Regions from separate parts of the Homo sapiens genome. Here region 1 is linked to region 2. Evidence: fine-mapped expression QTL. A gene starts in region 2. The other region holds a variant in brackets. All regions are shown on one strand. Distances are between the middles of the regions.

Region 1 (5,382 bases), 24 kb after region 2:
GGAGAATTGCTTGAACCTAGGAGGTGGAGGTTGCAGTGAGCCAAGATTGCACCACTGCATTCCAGCGTGGGCAACAGAGGGAGACTCTGTCTCAAAAAAAAAATAAAATAAGGAAATATAAAAGAATATGGAGGCATTAATATAGTCATTGTTCATGTTGGCATTTTGATGTCTATATTATTTTTTAAAACATTTAATAATTTTATAATAATTTCTAATTTATGATTTGGTACCGTGTCTTGTACAGTAAGTTGAACATCATGAATCCAGAACATTTATCTGCAGTTATTCTTATATAATGTTAATAACTAGGTTTTTCATTGAATGTTAGTCAACTATTTTAGTAACTTAGTAAAAGGAATCTTCTAAGAGCATTGTACAAATATAGCACATACAATATAGATTTCTTTTTATTTTACTTATGCCCTCTTTTTTATTTCTAAAAGCTGCACATGTAAACTTAAATATTTAAACTGAAATGGGATGTCTTATAGAATGATTTGGGGGGGTGTTAATGTTGTAAAATAATATCTGTACACAAAATATTGGTTTTATATATTATAGGTATGCCCAAGAGGACAGAGAACGAATGCACAGAAATATTGTCAGCCTTGCACAGAATCTCCTGAACTTTATGATTGGCTCTATCTTGGATTTATGGCAATGCTTCCTCTGGTTTTACATTGGTTCTTCATTGAATGGTACTCGGGGAAAAAGAGGTTAGCACATTTCTATGAACATATCTGGCTGGACTAATGTTGGAATAATTATCACTCAGAAGACCTTATTAAGTAATTATGCTTCTTCTGTTTTAAAAGTGGTAAACATGTTTTTCTTTATCTTCAGATTATTCTTAACTGTGACAAGAAAACTTAACAATAGGGCATGACTTAGTAATTTTTAAGGGAACTGTCCTTAGTCTGTTTTACTCTCAGTGATCTTGAAGGAATACTTTTACTTCTCAACTATAATCCTTATTGGTTTTCTACACAAAATTGGTTATGATTACAAGCTATTTATTGTTATGGAACACATTCTTTGTAATTTAATTTAATACTAATAATCTAGTATGATGTAGTTAAAAATGATATAGCTGTAACCTAATACAAAAACTCATATTAACATATTAAATCAGCACACATTTACTAAGCACTGCATTTTATGTTTGGAAGATCAGGGAAGGAGATATAAAAATAACTGACATGGCTTATAGTCATAATCTTGTGGAGAAAACAAGTGTGTACATAATTATAAATCAGTCTTAGAAATGTAGTGGAAGAGTTATAAACAAAGTACTCTGGAGTTACAAAGAACAGAGAGATAAATTATGCCTCATGGGATCTGAAAGATTTCAAAAAAGGAACATTTTAGGCAGAAGAAACAGCATGAATAATGGCATAGAGGTATGAAATATGTGATCTGTGGTAGGCAGGAATGGAAGTAATCTGGGGTAGTCAAGAGTGGGTTGCAAATGAAGAAAAGTAATATAAAGGGGAGTAGGAAAGATAGGTTGAGGCCAGAATGTGAAGGTTCTTGATAAGCATGTGAACTTTAATCTGCTGGGAATGGGAAGTCAAATTCTGCCTTACTGATTTTCTTTTAGTTCCTCCAACTTCTCAGGATCTTTCCTACTTTAGGTTCTTTCCCTTCCTGCAAACTCTTTCTGCTGTCTGAAATACTCTCTTCATCTGACTGCAACTTGTTACCTAGCTACCTTCTTTTCCTTCTGATTTCAGTTTAAAAGTCACTCAGAAAGTTGAGTACTAAAAACAAAACAACAACAACAAAACAAAGAGTGCCCAATTAAAAGAGAAAAATAAGGAAGACAGCCTACTTTCTATTCTTTCCTTCTAGGCCTCTGGGCCTGTGGTCGGACAGGCAGTCTGAAAGACTTCTGAAATGCCTTCAAGCCTTTTTCTCATTGTGTTGGCTATTAGCACTTGGCTCTCTTTTAGCCATGCTAACCTCTCTAGCAAGTTGCTGTACAGCCTGGTTGAATTCCTCTCCTGAAAATGCTTTTCTTCTCTACCACATGGCCAGGCTGCACATTTTCCAAACTTTTAGACTCCGCTTTCCTTTTTAAGTATAAGTCCCAATTTTTAAGTCATTCCTTTGCTCCCACATCTATCTGATCATAGGCTGTTAGAAGCAGCCACAGCACATCTTGGATGTTTTGTTGCTTAATGATTTCTTCCACTAGATACCCTAAGTCATCACTCTTAAGTTCCAACTTCCACAGATGCCTAGGACATGGACACAATGCAGCAGAGTTCTTTGCTAGGGCATAGTATGGATGACCTTTACTACAGTTCCTGATAACTTCCTTAATTCCATGTGAGACCTCATCAGCCTGGCCTTCACTGTCTACATTTCTGTCAGCATTTTGGTCACA[G/A]CCACTTAAGGCTCTAAGATGTTCCACGCTTTCCCTCACCTTCCTGTCTTCTTCTGAGACCTCCAAACACTTTCAGCCTCTGTCTGGTACCCAGCTCCAAAGCTGGGTATCTTTATAGCACTGCCCTACCCTTCAGTTTCAGTTTTCTGTTAGTCCATTTCCATTACTATAAAGGAATACCTGAGACTGGGTAATTTATAAAGAAAAGAGGTTTAATTGGCCCATGGTTTTGCAGGCTGTACATGAAGCATAGTACTGGCATCTGCTTCTGGTGATGGCTTGAGGAAGCTTACAATCATGGCAGAAGGCAAAGGGGAACCAGTGTGAGAGGAGGCAGGAGGCAAAGGGGAACCACATGGTGATAGGGGGAGGAGGTACCTCTTTCTTTCATTTTTTTTAATGTTTTATTTTTTAATTTATCTTTTCGTTTTTATTTTTCGAGACAATGTCCTGGTTTGTCACCTAGGCTGTATTGCAGTGGTGTGATCACTGGTTACTGCAACCTTGACTTCCTAGGCTCAAGTGATCTTCCCATCTCAGCCTTCCAAGTAGCTGGGACTACAGGCGTGTACCACCATACCCTGCTAATTTTTTATATTTTGTAGAGACAGGGTCTCTCTATGTTGCCCAGGCTGGTCTCGATCTCCTGGGCGCAAGCAGTCCTCCTGCCTCAGCCTCCCAAAGTGCTGGGATTATAGATGTGAGCCACCATGCCCAGCCACCAGGATCTTTTAAACAACCAAATCTCACATGAACTCACAGAGTGAGAACTCACTCATTACTGTGAGCACAGCTCCAAGTCATTCATGAGGCTTCCACTCCCATGACCCAAATACTTCCCACTAGGCCCCACCTCACTGAGGATTACATTTCAACATGAGATTTGGAGGGAATGAGCATCCAAAAAAATCACTCCGTATTTGAGTGAATCGTTTATTGGTGAAGGTCTGGTGTATGGAAGTGGCATCATTTGATGTATATTTTAGGAAGAAAATTTCTGTGGAGGGTAGGTAGATTAGAGGTGAGATATTTAATAGAAGACTGTTGTCAAAGAAATAGACTATGGTAGTTGGAATGGAAATGGAAAGGATGGTCAGATAGAAATAGAATCAGCAGTTTTCTGGGGCCTACCTAATAAATCCAGGGTGGTTATTTACATTGGGAAAGCATTTATAATTTTTTAGAATAATTTATAAAAATACTTTAAAAATAGCAGCTTTCATCCAGTTTTTAATTTCTGTTATATTAATAGAATGATGAGAGATGGGGTGAGAAAGGAGATATGACAAAGCTGAAATAGAATAATTGTCCAGTCAATTGGTGGGAAGTTCTCAGCCCACAGTAAAGAAGAGCTAACAGGCATAGGTATGTCTTCACCAAATGCGTTTGAATTCAGACGTCAGCTATGTTTTGAGGGAGAGACTTGAAGCAGAGACTAGAGGGTGGTTTGAGGGAAGGCGAGGAGTGACTAATGCTCAGACAGGAAAGGAGGTGGGTTTAAAAAGAGGGAGTTGTACAACTGTGCTTTGCCTAGGAAATTGGTAACAAGGACCACAAGGGCCATCTCTTACAGTTTCCTGAAATTTTGCACTTACAGTCCAGATAGATGGGGGCTGGAGGTGTCTTAACAAATGTTCATAAAAACTGGGGATAACCCCTGAGCTGATCTGGAAGGATGCATGGTTTGGCAGATAGGTAAAATGTGTTTGAGGTGGAGGGTGATGCATGCCCAGATGTGTGGAGGCACAAGTGAACTTAAAGTCATTTAGCATGGCCAGGAAATAGAGAAGACGATGCTGGTGGGGGTATTTTTCCAGAAAGACAAAAAGACTCAAAATTAGTTTAATGAGAGGAGTTCTAAAATTGTATTTCATTTTGTAAAGATTATGTGTCTGGCTGTAGATAGGTTGAAAGAGAACATGACAAGAAGACCAGTTAAGAAGGTTATCAAAGTAATGGCAAGAAATAATGAAGTTGGGATTTTGCCTCTGAAAATATTAATTCTATAAGGAAGCAAAATGTCAAATTATGTAATGTGAATGTGTGTTTATGTTTTCAGTGTTTTCATCTTTGTAAAATGGCACAGGAGTTCTGTTTCCAACAATGTGAGTTAATTAGGAGCTCCAAGTGACCCACCTGCATGAAATAACTAAAGTCTGGGAAAGATAAACTATGTGAGACATTGCTGGTCCCAGCTGGAGATGGAGAGATCTCCAGGAACTCTTCTCTTTCAAAACACAAACCAGCCCACCCTGAGTTAGGCCAGAGTGACAAGGCAGGCAGTTGGGATGAGAGGGTTGTCTGAGGTCAATTGCTGGTAGCAGCAGTGTTATCTGGATACTGAATCTTGGGTAGCCTCTGCTAAGACTAGACCCTCAAGGGCCTGAAGCCTAAGGTAGTAGTGGCCATGGCTGCTGACAAAAGTAGCAGAGCCTCTTTGCTGGAAAGCTTCCCCATTCTCAATTTAACCCTGTAAGACTCTTGCTCATTAAAATCTAGTAATGGCCTCATAGTCTGTGGTTACTAAATAAAATAGCACTAGGACTTATTGGTACATGCAACAAACAATATATTTATGCTCTGAGAGGACACAGATAATGGACTTTCACCTACAGGATATGTAACTGCTACCTATAAAGAAAGTAAGGATGTAGTCACAAGCTGTCCATAACAATAAGATTATTAGGAATAAATACATGTGATGGGGAAGAAAAGGAAACTTTTAGAAATGAAAGTTTATACTTGCCAAAATAAAAAAAAAGGTAGTCAGCAGATTAAACAGTTGAAGATAGAATTAGTGAACTAGAAAAAAATGCATAGAAATAATGGAATATTGCACTGAGAAAGAAGGAGATGGAAAATCAGGTGCAAGAAGGTGAGATCCATGTTGGGTAGGTGTGGGAGTGGTCCAGGCTTAAAGTCTTACACCTCACAGAAGCCAGTCTCTCTTATAACAATTCCATGAACTTCTGGGGTCCTGCAAGTGACAT
Region 2 (5,382 bases):
AAATTTTCTACAATGAAAATATTTTTTTAAATGTGAAAGCATTCTGAGAGCAGCATTCCAAAATTTATCAGAAATAAAAGTAACAGGTTAGAGTAAGGATAAAACTTCAAAGTTTTCCAAGGAAGATCATTTTGGAGGTATGACGCGGGTGGAAGGAATGTTAATTTTTACATATAATCTTGGAAAACATTTAAAAGACACATTTCTTTATGTTCATACTTCTATTTGTCCTTCAGATGGTTGAATTTTATCTAATAATAACCAGCTTTTCAAAATCCTAAAATGATTTTAAATGGGTTATGAATTAAAAATTTTCCACAAAGGTTATTAGGGGGTGGGGTGAGGAGGTGCACCAATGTGTGTAAGGATAAGACTTTTCCACTTGCAATCTAAGCACCCAAAGCATGTCAGAGGTGCAAGCTCTAGAAGCTAAAGTTTTGTTGGATGGTAGCGATTTAGAGGGGCTTTCAAGCAGCTCTGAAGGTCTCCATTCATTCCTGAAATTCTGTGTAGTTGAACAATACTGGTTGCATTCAATGTTTTGTTTGTTTCACAGTGTGGTCCTATAATATGAGCTTTTCAGTTATAGTGAATGTTATTTTTGTCATTTTTGGCACTTACAGTTCACAATGCTTGGTTATGTGGTTTAAGATTGTTTTAATTTTTGCATTTTACATTCCTTTTGGCACTTTTGAAGAAGGGACATTGTCTTTTATGTTGTTTGGGGAAAGTGGTAAGCCTCCCCCGTCTCTAGCTTTAAATGTTTGGCTTTATGAAATCCACAACTCTCCCCCAGAATCTTCCATCATTAAATAATGCGAGTGGAAATTTGCCTTCATAAGCTGGCCATTCCAACCGTCTTAGAGGCTGGTATCCCCAGCTTCGGATTTAGGCTGTTTGGTCACTGCCGTCACCGGCTCTGGTGGTCCCTCTCGGCAGAAAAGTACAACTGGATTTTTGCGGGCCCACATGGCCACGTCCCCTGCCACTCCGCTGGCCGGGTTGGAAGAGGACATCCTGTTGCAGGCCCCCAGCCGGTTGGCATAGCGGTTTCGAAGGCGACTGCGGCTTCTGGCTTGCAGACCCGGGCCCTGGCTGGGCAGGAAAGCGTCCACATTCCTAGTCCGGTAGCCCTCCTCGCGGTTGCGCCCTAGGAGCATCGAAATGTTGGGATTGCGGATGGCGTAGATGACAGGGTTGATGGCCCCATTGGCCCAGGTCAGCCAGACGGCCACCACGCTGAGGAGCGAGGGGGCCTGCATGGTCTGGGCCTGCCGGGCGGCGGCCAGCAGCACCAGGAAGCAGTAGGGCCCCCAGCAGCAGATGACGAAGACGATCATGATGAGGACGGTGGTGGCCGTGCGCACCTCGCTGAAGAAGCGCAGCACGCGCGCGTAGGTGTTCACCGGCCGCACGCGCACGTCCGACAGGCGCACCGTCTTGCAGATGTGGTAGTGGCAGAAGCACATGAGCAGGAAGGGCAGCAGGTAGCAGGCCACCACCAGCCCCACGCTGAAGGCCGCGCCCAGCTGCGCGGGGTCCGGGGAGGTCCGGTAGAGGCAGCCGTGGAAGCTCTGCGCCGCCGCGAGTTCCCGGGGCGCCCCGAGCAGCTCCCAGGGCAAGGAGAAGCCCAGGGCCGTCAGCCAGGCGCCCGCCAGCAGCTGCAGCGCGCGGCGGCGGCCGATCTTCTCCCGCGGCGGCCGCACGATAGCGCAGTAACGGTCCAACGAGATGAGCGCCACGCTGAGCGTGGACACGATGCCGAAGCACGAGCTGAAGAAGCGGCTGGCGGCGCAGAAGCCGCGCCAGGGCCCCGCGGCGGCGGCAGGCGCCGAACCCCCGGGCGGAGTGAAGAGGTCCAGGAAGGCGGCGGGCAGGCAGAGCAGCGCCGTGAGCAGATCCGATAGGGACAGCGACAGGATGAAGGCGTTGGTGACGGTGCGGAGCTGCCGGTGCTTCACAATCACCCCCATCACCGCGCAGTTGCCAAGGCTAGACAGCAGGAAGATGAGCAGGAGGACGAGCGCCTGGGCCGCCACTGCAGCTCCGTGCGACAGCAGCGGCGCCGCCTCCGGGCCTAGCGGCCGCCTCACCGCCGCCCCCGCCTCCCGCGCTGCCCCGGACCCGCCAAGGCCGCCGCCACCGGGAGCGGCAGCTGTGCCGCCTCCGCTTGCGTCGCTCAGGTTCCCCAGCGCCGCGGTCGCCACGGTGCTGAAGGAGAGCACGGCCGCCGTGGCCGCGGAGGAAGTCCCGCCAGGTGGGCCGGCCGCGGAGGGGGCGCCGGAGTGCTGGCTGCCCAGTAAGGCCATGCTCGCTGGTGGGCGGGGCGGCTGCGGCTCCTCCATGGGGCCCAGTGGCGGCCGCGGATCTCCTCATCCCGCACCGGGGGCGGCGGCCGCTAGGTCGGAGTGGTGGCTCGGGGCCGGGGGCTAGCGGCCGCCGCGGGGAGCTGGGCTCGGCCGGAGGGGTGGCGGTCGCTGGGGACCTGGCGGAGCCTTTGACGTGGGTTCCAGCGTTGCCGAGGGAACCGCGTGTTTACGCAGGAGCGCGGGGCGGGACGGCAGCCCAGTACCCGCTGCAAAGCCGACCCGCGACACCGCCACTCCGGAGGTTACCGGCCCGGGTGTTCGGGTTTCCGAGAGTGCCAGGTCGACCTCCTGAGGGACCAATGTCCGGCCAGATAAAGTGCCGACTGGCATGCAAACAAATGACCAGATTCAACGAAAGTTCACTCTTGCTCTCTTTTGTAGGGTACAAATGTTCTACAGGCAGGCCTTTTGGGGAGTGGTGGGGGGGGCACTCTGCTTCCTGTGGGTGCTTTTGGTATATACAGGTAGGAAAGGAATCTAGAAAGTGAAGTGAAAGAAAAATCCAGAAGTCTACATCCAGACATCTTAAACTTGAGAAGCAGACTAATTTAAACCAGTAATTCTCAAACTTGAGCTAACAGAATTCACATAGAGGGCGTGTTAAAATACAAGTGACGAGGTCTGAACCCCAGCGTTTCGAATATGTCTGGGGAAGTACCCAAGAATTTGTATCTCTAACGGGTTCGCGGGTGGTGATGATGATGCTGGTCCCAGGACCACACTTACAGAAGCACTGATGTCAAGAGTTTCATAAAATGCAGATTCCCAGGCTGACAGAATTACTAAGGATGGGCCCATGACTCTAAACCCCGTAGGTGATTCTGATACAGGTGCTCTGAGGAGCTAGGATAGTTCCTTTAGATGTTACTTCATTTCCAAGGGCCTGGACCTCAGGCCCCTACTGGCTGATAAATGGGGGGAGAGGGATTGGTGCCTTGCCCTGCTAGCAGCCTTCATCTGTTCTCAGGAATGGGGTATGTTTTGAGTCTAAGGTGCTGCCAGCCTGGCAATCACCACAGATGCAGCTCCAGGTACCTGGCTGGGAGATACGGGGAAAAGAAAGGCAGGGCTACCCAGGGAAGTTGCATCTCAAGTTTCTGGGCATGGCCTCTAATGGGGAAAAGTGTGATAAACCCTCAGGTTAACTAACCCTGGGCTCTTCGCTAAAGCAGTGGTTCACAGAGTATGGACATTGGACCAGCAGCATCAACATCCCCTGGAAACCTTGAGAAATACAAATTATCAGGCCTACAGTGCATAGGATACCCCTGATCTACTGAAACTCCTGTGGTGGGGCCCAGGCACCTATGTTTTAACAAGCCCTCCCAGTGATTCTGATGCACAAATTTGAGAAACACTGCTCTAAAGAATGACTAGTATATTTGTAGATCTTAGAATCAATGGTATTAGTATTGGAGTGCTTATTTCATTCAGAAAAAATATCCTACAGGAAATTTACAGTATAAATAGAAGAACGTTTAAGGTGGCAAACCAAAACTGGGTTTGTCAGCCTAAGCGTCATGGACTTTTGGGCCAGATAATTCTTTATTGCAGGGGCCATCTATACATTGTATGATGTTCAGCAGCATCCCTAGTTCCTACCTACGAGATGCCAGTAGCACCTCTCCCAGCTGTGACAACTAAAACTGTCTTCAGATATTGCCAAATATCCTCTTGGGAGCAGTCAATGCCAGCTTAATCTAGACTGATTTTGTCTTAATTTTGTCAATCAAAGCAAAAATATAATTATCATACATTAATTTATTTGGCAAACACAATCTTCTCAGATTGTGCTTAGTTTTAGGAAACAACATATAAGATAGGAAACCCAGCCCAAATAAGCTTAAGCCACCGGCCAACACAGTATATTACAGTGTGCTAAATATTGTCTTAAAAATATGTGAGTGAAATTATTTGTCTTCCTGACAAAGACTTTGTACAAGAGGTGACATTAGACTTTTTAAAAAAAGAAGAAAGGGAAAGAACATTTGATGAATGTGCAAAGTCTGGAGGTTAGTGTTGAAGTGAGCAGTGTCTGAATTCTAGGATATTGGAGATGGGGAGTGAAGAAGGAAATAAATGATCAAAGTTTATTGGGGCTACCTTATGATGGGCCTTGTAGGCCATGCTCTGGAGACTGAACTTCATCAGGGGAGGAGGGGCTAATAGCATAAGGGAGGGCCGTGAGCAAGTGCATGGTTCAGAAGGACCAGAAGGACTGCACTCTTCTGCTTCCTTCCTTCCTCATCTTTCTCAGTGTCCTCTCCTCTGCCAGTTCATCCTCTTCCACCTGCCTTTACATGCTGGAGTTCATCAAAGCCCTGTTCTCAGCTCCTCTGGACTCCCCCCTCGGCCCCATCTCACTCACATCCAGGACTTCAAAGATAATCTATATATTCATTACTCAAATTATGTCTGTGGCCCCAACCTACATGTCCTGCTACTTGGCATCTCTCTCCTTGATGTGCCAGTGGCACATCAAATGGGTGCATGATCTTCTTCCTACTTCCCCGGTAAAACTTGGTCTTCAATACTCTGTATCTCAGAATATGGTAGAACCATCCTTCTAGCTTTTAAGCCAAAAACTTAAGAGTTTTCCTTGATGAATCCCTCCTCCTTACCACCAGTCCACATCCAATTCATCAACCAAGACCTATGGATTTTAGTTGCGGACTATCTTTGCATCCATTCATCTCCTCCATCCTGAATCTTGGCTCTCATCCTCTCTTTGGACTACTGTTGTCACTGTTGTCCTAACCGGTCTTCCCACATCCAGTTCCTACATTGTAGGCAGCTAGGCATAATGCTCTTAAAAAAATTCTTCATGCCACTTACTTATTTAAACTCTTCTAATTAGGCCAGTGTAGTGGCATGTGCCTGTAGTCCCAGGTACTTAGGAAGCTGAGGAGGGAGGATCGTATGAGCCCAGTAGTTACAGGCCAGCCTGGGCAACATAGTGAGACCATGTCTCTTTTAAAAAAAATCCTATTGGCTTTCCCCATTTATTTTAGAA

What was found. PIP is the estimated chance that this variant, and not a neighbour inherited with it, causes the effect.
Region 1: its variant is the best candidate, but not a certain one, in a credible set for the expression of GPR135 in T cells (TOPMed, PIP 0.69).

The regions. Positions count from the first base shown.
Region 1 is chr14:59,487,110-59,492,491 of GRCh38, forward strand. JKAMP (JNK1/MAPK8 associated membrane protein) reads left to right here. Exons shown (of 7, transcript NM_016475.5): 3 at 565-719. It overlaps LOC124903326 (a long non-coding RNA gene), which reads left to right and starts at 726. Exons shown (of 2, transcript XR_007064196.1): 1 at 726-3,757; 2 at 4,452-4,942. It also overlaps a transcript of L3HYPDH not described here. The variant G/A (reference allele first, on the strand shown) is at 2,393.
Region 2 is chr14:59,462,882-59,468,263 of GRCh38, forward strand. GPR135 (G protein-coupled receptor 135) reads right to left here and starts at 2,499. Exons shown (of 1, transcript NM_022571.6): 1 at 1-2,499. The coding sequence starts at 2,345. The coding sequence ends at 861. It also overlaps a transcript of L3HYPDH not described here. RefSeq lists a silencer at 2,030-2,569.